2 linked regions of the Homo sapiens genome follow. The protein of the gene in region 1 interacts with the protein of each later gene in a pairwise test. Each region holds a gene or a part of one and is shown in the gene's direction. Other genes may lie near its edges.

Region 1 (3,817 bases):
GTTGGAGGGCAGGGTGCTGGGTAGGGACACAGGATTAATTCAAGGATGTGTGGGAGGGGGTGCCAGGAAGAGGGAAAATAGCAGATTTGAAATCTAGCTCTTCTGAGTCATCCGTGTGGCCTTGGGCAGGTTATTTCCCCTCTTGAGCCTGCTTCCTCCGTCTGTAAAATGAATATGTTGGCTGAGGAGATTCTGAGCTATCTTGCAACTTAGAGCAGGAGAGTCTAACCTTTTAGGGGGCTGGGCAGCCCTGCTCCATTCCTTCTGCCTTCCATTCAGTGGAAGGTGCCTCTCCGGGCTGGCTTGCCTCTCTCTGCCCGCCTGTACACAGCAAAATCCTGCGTTGAGTGAATGCAGCAGCTTCAGAAACCAGCTCCTGCCATCAGAGCTGAAGGACAAAGTGCCCAGCAGTTTTGGGTAGAGAGGGGAATGTCTGTAACCAGTCCCTGCTGGGAGCCCCATGTTAGTCTGCAGGCTCGCTCCCCACTCTTCTTGGGAAGAGCCCTTTCAGTTCCTGGGGTGCAGGTTTTAGGGACCTCTCCCTTTCCAGAGGGCTGCTTTTCTGGTCTATTTCATCAGCCATTGAGAGGGAAAATCAGGAACATTTGTTCATGCTCAGCTGGGGTGCAGCACAGGGAGGGGGCCTTGGAAACCAGCACTCTGGTCCCACTGAGCAGATGACGCCCATTGATCAGGCGTTTCTACCACCTGATGCCATTGAGCAAATGTACCAGCTTGGGCTCCTCCTGCCACCCGGGCTGGCACCTTGGACCTGCATTAGTGCTCCATCTGAGGGAGTGGGGGTGGATCATGAAACACTTTTTTTTTTTTTTTTTGAGAGACAGTCTTGCTCTGTCGCCCAGGCTGGAGTGCAGTGGTGCGATCTTGGCTCACTGCAACCTCTGCCTCCCGAGTTCAAGCGATTCTCCTGCCTCAGCCTCCCAAGTAGCTGGGATTACAGGTGTGTGCCACCACACCTGGCTAATTTTTTTTGAATTTTTAGTAGAGACGGGTTTCACCATGTTGGTCAGGCTGGTCGCAAACTCCTGACCTCGTGATTCACCTGCCTCGGCCTCCCAAAGTGCTGAGATTACAGGCGTGAGCCACTGCACTTGGCTTTTGAAACACTTTTTATAAAGAATGGGAGAGTAAGATGGTGAGCCTGTGTTTGCAGCTGGCAGGGCTGGTCTTTCATCTGGGTACTTGTTGTCTTAAGATTCAGCTCTTGCCCCTGGTCTGCACCCAAGACTGCTGGCTTAATTAGTGAATTCAACAACTTGGAGATGAGCAAAAACATGTTCACTGGTGGTGGGCAAGTGTGTACAAAAGGCAACAGGATGGAGCAGAAAGGTAGCTGAACTAGGCATTAGGAGACTGGTGTTCCAGCCCTGATACTGTTACAGATGGAGCGATGTGGCCTTGTGTGAGTCACAGCCTCTCTCTGAGCCTCGGTTTCTCTATTTCTTTAGAGGCAGCAGTGCGTGGTGGTTAAACTGCCTGGATTTGCCTGTTAGCTTTATCATAACTTCATATCAATTGTGTGACCTTAGACCATTCAACCCCTGGTGCCTCCATTTCCTGATTTGTAAAATGGAACTAGTAATACCCCATCAGATTGTTGTGGATAGTCTTTGAGATAAAACTAGTAAAACATTTAGCATAATGCCTGGCATATAGTAAGTGCTCAATAAGTGTTCACTATCATCATCATTGTCATGATTATCATTATTACTATTATTGTAAAATGGGAGGGATTAACTTTGGTCCTTTCTAGTTTTCTGGGGCCTGGATTGTGTGTGTGTGTGTGTGTGTGTGTGTGTGTGTGTGTGAGAGAGAGAGAGAGAGAGAGAAAATCTGTCTTTGGGGTAGAAGGTAAGGGTGAATAAGTTGCTTTTTTGGTTCTTTTCTTCCTTTCTCTGCCTCATTGAGGGACTCCTGAATGTTGTGACTAGGCTCATGGTAGCCCCGTCCCCATGGCAAGAAGCCCAATTTGACGTCACTGACAATATCCTGGCTCCTGGCAGTTGAGGGATGATATTTCATCAGCTAGCATTTGCCTGTCCTTTCCCTTCCACCCTTTGTTTCCCACCCTTCACCATGGTATGAAAACCATATGTGCAGATAATGTGTTTAAGCTGATCAGCCTCTCCCAGAGTCACCCAAATAAAAAGCCATCTTCCTAGAAGACACTTTCGACTTTAAGATAAATAATCTGGTTCTTCTGTTGTGTTGCTTTATGTCTGGCTGGCCCTGAATCCCTTTTTGTGTTCTGCCCATGGTCTGCTCCAAGGACGTGGGCTGGGCCCGGTCCGTGGTCTAAAGCTTTGGACCTTATTGGCCATGCTGGCCGGGGCAGCCTCTTCCAGCGGCTTGGGAGGGGCCAGGCCAGGCTGGGCCTCTGCCTCATCTTGTTCCAGCAAGGCTGCTGCTCTGAGATATCCCAGAGATGATTATCATGGGGCAGACACTTGGGGAATGCTGCCGCCCGCCAGGTGCTTGACAATACTTCATCCTGTCTCCGCCTACAAGGATGGTTTGGATACTGCCCCCATTCTGTAGATTAGAGAGTGAAGGCTCAGGAAGAATTCAGAGTAAGTGGTGGGATTGAGATTTGATCCTCGGTTGATCTGATTCTCTTATCCTGTGTGCTAAACCACTGTGTTATATTTCCTCATGTATCAAAACCTCCTGTGAGCCGAAAAGCCCCAGGAATGATATCTCTTAGACTGAATCAAGCCCCCTCCTCCCCACCTTTGATAATCTCGCAGGCTCAGGGCACCTTATGAGATTCCGTTTCTGTCCTGCATGGATTACTCAGGCATTTTGGGGACAGTGATGAGTAAGAGTTTTTTGGGACATGGCTGCTTATGGAGGGGTTAGAGCGGGGAATGATCTTATTAAGCAACAAAAGGTTGTAATGGAAAGAGGATGCATATTGGAGTCACAGATCTGAAATTTGAATCCCGATTCTGCAATTTACTGGCTGTGTGGCCTTGGCTTCCTTATCTGTGAAAATCAGAATAACAGCAACCACAGATGACTCTAAAATCTCAGTGGCTTAACAAAATGATTAACTCCTGATCACATTACTTGTCTAATATGGGTCTCTGTTCCACACGGTCACTCAGGGACCCAGGCTCCAAAGATGATGACTCCACCATCTTTGTAACTGCCCCTTCTAAAGCATGTGGCATCCAAAGTTACTGCAGATGGGGAAGAGGGAGAAGGGAAAGCCACACTAATACTCAACTGCTTTGGCCAGGAGGTGACACACATCACTTCACCTCCAGCACCTTGGTCAGAACTGTCATCTGGCCCCAAACCAGCCCCCAGGGAGGCTGAGAATGTAAGGAAGTACATGGATATTTGATGAGCACTAAGTCTCTGCATTTACATTTACCCTAGTAGAGTGCTTTAAGGATCAATTGAGATGATGCATTTAAAGCTTCTAGTATAGAGCTGGTATGTTGCTGGTTGTTAACACATAGAAGCTTCCTTTCCCTAATAATCCCCGATGTACATTGCTCTTTGTAGATTACAGACTGTGTCTATTGAGATTATTTCTGGGCAGATCATATTGTGCCTATAACATACCAGAGGGAGGTGAGTCCACGCATGGCAAGGGCACTATAAGCCAGGCCCTGGATCTTCAGCCCAGTTCTCCCATGACTTCCTTTGGCTTACTGAAATTTACTGCTCTGAGAACTTTTTCCAGCATGTCTCCCAGGATCTTTCAGAACCCACTTCTGCTCCTGTCTCCTCCCTGCATTCCTCAATAGGGTAGAGTATCTGTATTCATTTTATGGATGGTGAGGAG
Region 2 (3,817 bases), on another chromosome or scaffold:
TCTCCCTCCTGAGGAGGGGCCTCTGCAGGGTCCTCAATTCACAAGACTAGGAAAAGCCTCAATGCTCACTCCACAGAGTAACTGGTATAGTTGGAACTGCAACGAGTCACGTGTTTTCTTGTCATCAGGCTACAAGGCTGGTTTGAAAAAACAAGTAGGGCTTTCAGAGTGACAGTGGGCCTGATTCCTGGGCAGAAATTGAGTCTTAATCATCTCCCTAAAGCCAGAACCTGGCATAGTGTAGACATCAGTAAATGTTAATTGAACACGTGCTTAGGGAAAACCTACCAATATAAGGTGTCTTGTGAGGTACTCAGGGTCCTATTTGCCCTACAGAAGGGGAATCGCATATTCTTCCAAAGGCCAAGGGGACAAGCTCTTGTCTTTGTCTCCCATCCCCCATGCTTCATTCATGTAGAGTTTGGGCATTCACCGCAGAGAGAGACTCATCACCATTAGCTTCATTGTCTTTGAATGCGAGGAGCAGAAATATCTCTAATGGGAGACACTGATCAAACTTATGGACCATTTTGATGTCAGCTGAGCATGCTGGGCTGATGATAAGCAGGATGGAAGCTGGGGGAGTCCACAGCTTTGGGACAGAGATGTTCAATAGAAACCGATGGAATGGCTGACAGCAGGGCTCATAATTACTTGTCTGTCTTTCAAGTGAACTTCAGGACTAAAAGTTGTTAGCTAGTGGTTCCTAATTGACTGTCTAGAGATTGCTTGATGATATCCACTGTTTTCTGAGTTGGCAGAATTTTTCAGAGAACTCTGAGAATGGCCCAACCCTGTTTGTGCAGCTAATTAAACTCCCCTTGTTAAAATGCAATGCAAGATTTTTTTTTTGCTAGACTGTTATTATAATAAGCTATTTCTTCAAAAGTCCTTGATATGTCGGTCTTTTCTGTAAAAGCCTTGGCATGCTTGAGTTGGAGTCTTTCTATCTTTGGAGAAATGAGTAAAGCTGGTTTCAAGGGAAGCTGGCCTCTCTGATAGGTTCCTGGTGTATCTTACCGAGTCTTTATTCATCTCTGGCAAAGACCCTTCCCCTATTCAAACCCTGCTGTCCACCCCTATGTTCGACATAAATCTGCTTGTTTCTCCTCCCTACTCCTGAACTGTTTCCCACGTAGGGATGTGATTGGAAAAGAAAATTGAGACCAAGGTAATAAATTTTGACTAAACACATAAAAAATATGATTGGATACACACACATATTTTTTTTTTCTGCTCATCTTGAAACTTAAATTAAATTAAAAACAACTTAGATGCAAAAGCCTTGATTGGCCCCGAGGCCAGTGATAAAATAAGTCTTCATTATAGAAGCATCTAGACCCAGCTTGATCAGGCATTATGGAGGTTGGTGGCCATTAAATGCACAGGACCCATTACACCACCTGCAGCTGGCTGACCTGAACTTTGAGAGACATGGCCAGAGTCACTTCTGGCTCTGAAGACCATTGCTGTCTCCTTAGAGGTTTCATAAAAAGTCCCTTCAGGCTGATGTTCCACAGGTGAGCTTTGGGTTGGCTTTCAGATGAGATCATTAAAAGGCACAGCAAATTGGCTGCCAAGGGTTACTCTGTAAGGCAATAGTAGTAATAAAAAAATGTTAATTGTGCTGGGATCCTCTTGGGGAAGTTCAAAGGGGACAAAAGAAAAACAGGATCTTTCAAAAGTGTCATTTAAAAATATGCGGTGGCACTGAAGTGTGAGTCTGAATATCTTAAATGAACATAAAATATTTTAAAATGACTTTTTCTGCAAATGGTAAGCTGGAAAAAAACTTTTATTAAAAAAAATTGCACAAAACCTTCAAGCTCATACGCTATTCACTTTCTAACAAATGGCTGGTTCCCATTTTGAAGGATGTTAATTTGCAATTTCCCAGGCGATGAGAGGATATGAATTTGCATCATATATTTTCACTGTAGCCCACATCTTTGGTGATTCCCTCATTCTGATGAAAAGGAATTGGATTGGGTTGGGGTGAAGGTGAGGAAGAGAAAATGAGCAGTAGAAGGAAAGAGAATGTGACATTTTCAGATCACCTACTCTGTGCCAGGGACTTGGCTCACATTACTTCGTTAATACTGAGGACAACCCTGTGAAGTAGGTTATCTCTATTTTACAGATGAAGGAACTAAGAATTAAGGAGATTTCACATCTAGCAAGTGCTAGAATTGAAATTCAAACTTAGCACTCTCATAGCTTCTTTATTTCCCTTTCCTTGCATAGAGATAGGAATAATCTCCTTTAAGACTCCAGAATGGCCGGGCGCGGTGGCTCACGCCTGTAATCCCAGCACTTTGGGAGGCCGAGGTGGGTGGATCACGAGGTCAGGAGATCGAGACCACCCTGGCTAACACGGTGAAACTCCGTCTCTACTGAAAATACAAAAAATTAGCCAGGCGTGGTGGCGGGCTGTAGTCCCAGCTACTTGGGAGGCTGAGGCAGGAGCATAGAGTAAACCCGGGAGCCGGAGCTTGCAGTGAGCCGAGATCGCGCCACTGCACTCCAGCCTGGGCGACAGAGTGAGACTCCGTCTCAAAAAAAAAAAAAAAAAAAAAAAAAGCCTCGAGAATGGGGAATCTTCCTTTAGGTAAAGTCTGCTGGCGTAGTGGTTTTCGTACAACCAGTGGCGATGTGGCTAAACGCTGGGTGGTCCCCACCTGTGAAAACAAAGCTGTTTTAGCTTGTTTCTATGATTCTATTCATTTATGTATTGGACTCCACTTACTTGCCTGTAAGTACTCTCGACAAGCCAATTTCTGTCACTCCAGTTGCCAAAAGCTCAGATTCCAGCTTGTTATTGATGTTCAACTTGTTATTATTTGCAGTTGTTTTCCAATTTCACCGGCTCCGTGGATGACCGTGGGACCTGCCAGTGCTCTGTTTCCCTGCCAGACACCACCTTTCCCGTGGACAGAGTGGAACGCTTGGAATTCACAGCTCATGTTCTTTCTCAGAAGTTTGAGAAAGAACTTTCCAAAGTAAGCATTTTCTTTTCAAACAATATCTTGATAAAGAGAAACAAAACAAAATGTGTTTTAATTTAGGATTTTATAAGCAATCATTCTTCACTATCAAAGACATCACGTTTTTATTCTATGGTGATTTTAGTATTTATTTTATAGGACACCAATGGAGTTCTTATTAAGGCAGGGAAAATGAGAGCACAGGAAGAAAGTGGGGTTCAAATTGTTCACGCCGTGGATAAACTCACTATAGTATTGTGGTACTTAGGCAGTTGGAAAGAAGCCTTGAGCTCTCCTTGCAAACCCCAACCTGCAATTTTTATTTTGTTTTGACGCTGCTTCTTCCTTTTGGTCTTCTAGGTCTTTCCTCAAGCTTTGCTTTCTTTTCTTTCTTCTCCTCTATCCCCTTTAGTTCTATTCTATCTCCCTTCTCTTTTTCCTTTTCTTCTATTTCTATTCCATTCCTGCATCCTTTAGTTTCTTATTTCTCTTGCCTCAATCCTTGCCCTTATTCATCCCTTCTAATCTCTCTTTTCCTTTCCTGGTTAATTCTTTTTTGGGGGGGACATTTTTGGGTATTTTCTTACTTTTAGATGATCTTTTTTTCCCTCCTTCTTTTCCCTTCCTCCACTTCCACTCCTTCAAATCCTCTCCCTCTCATCCTCCTCCCTCCCTCTCTCTTTCCTTTAACCCTTTTTTATCTTTACAAATTGCTCACTTCCTTCTCTCTCCCCCTCACTCTCTTTTTTTGTGACAATAAGTTGTAGTCTCTTTTATTTTTTTCTATTTTCTCCAAGTGAAATCCAAGGTTGTAGTCTCTTTATTTTTAATCT

The links.
Region 2: the proteins of TSPAN18 (region 1) and OLFM4 interact in a two-hybrid assay, tested with the Homo sapiens proteins (one large-scale study listed by BioGRID).

The regions. Positions count from the first base shown.
Region 1 is NC_000011.10:44,729,806-44,733,622, forward strand, and holds part of TSPAN18 (tetraspanin-18), read left to right. Parts: intron 1-3,817. UniProt on the Homo sapiens protein: Plays a role in the cell surface localization of ORAI1 and may participate in the regulation of Ca(2+) signaling and the VWF release in response to inflammatory stimuli.
Region 2 is NC_000013.11:53,031,502-53,035,318, forward strand, and holds part of OLFM4 (olfactomedin-4 precursor), read left to right. Parts: intron 1-2,846; coding exon 2,847-2,999; intron 3,000-3,817. UniProt on the Homo sapiens protein: May promote proliferation of pancreatic cancer cells by favoring the transition from the S to G2/M phase. In myeloid leukemic cell lines, inhibits cell growth and induces cell differentiation and apoptosis.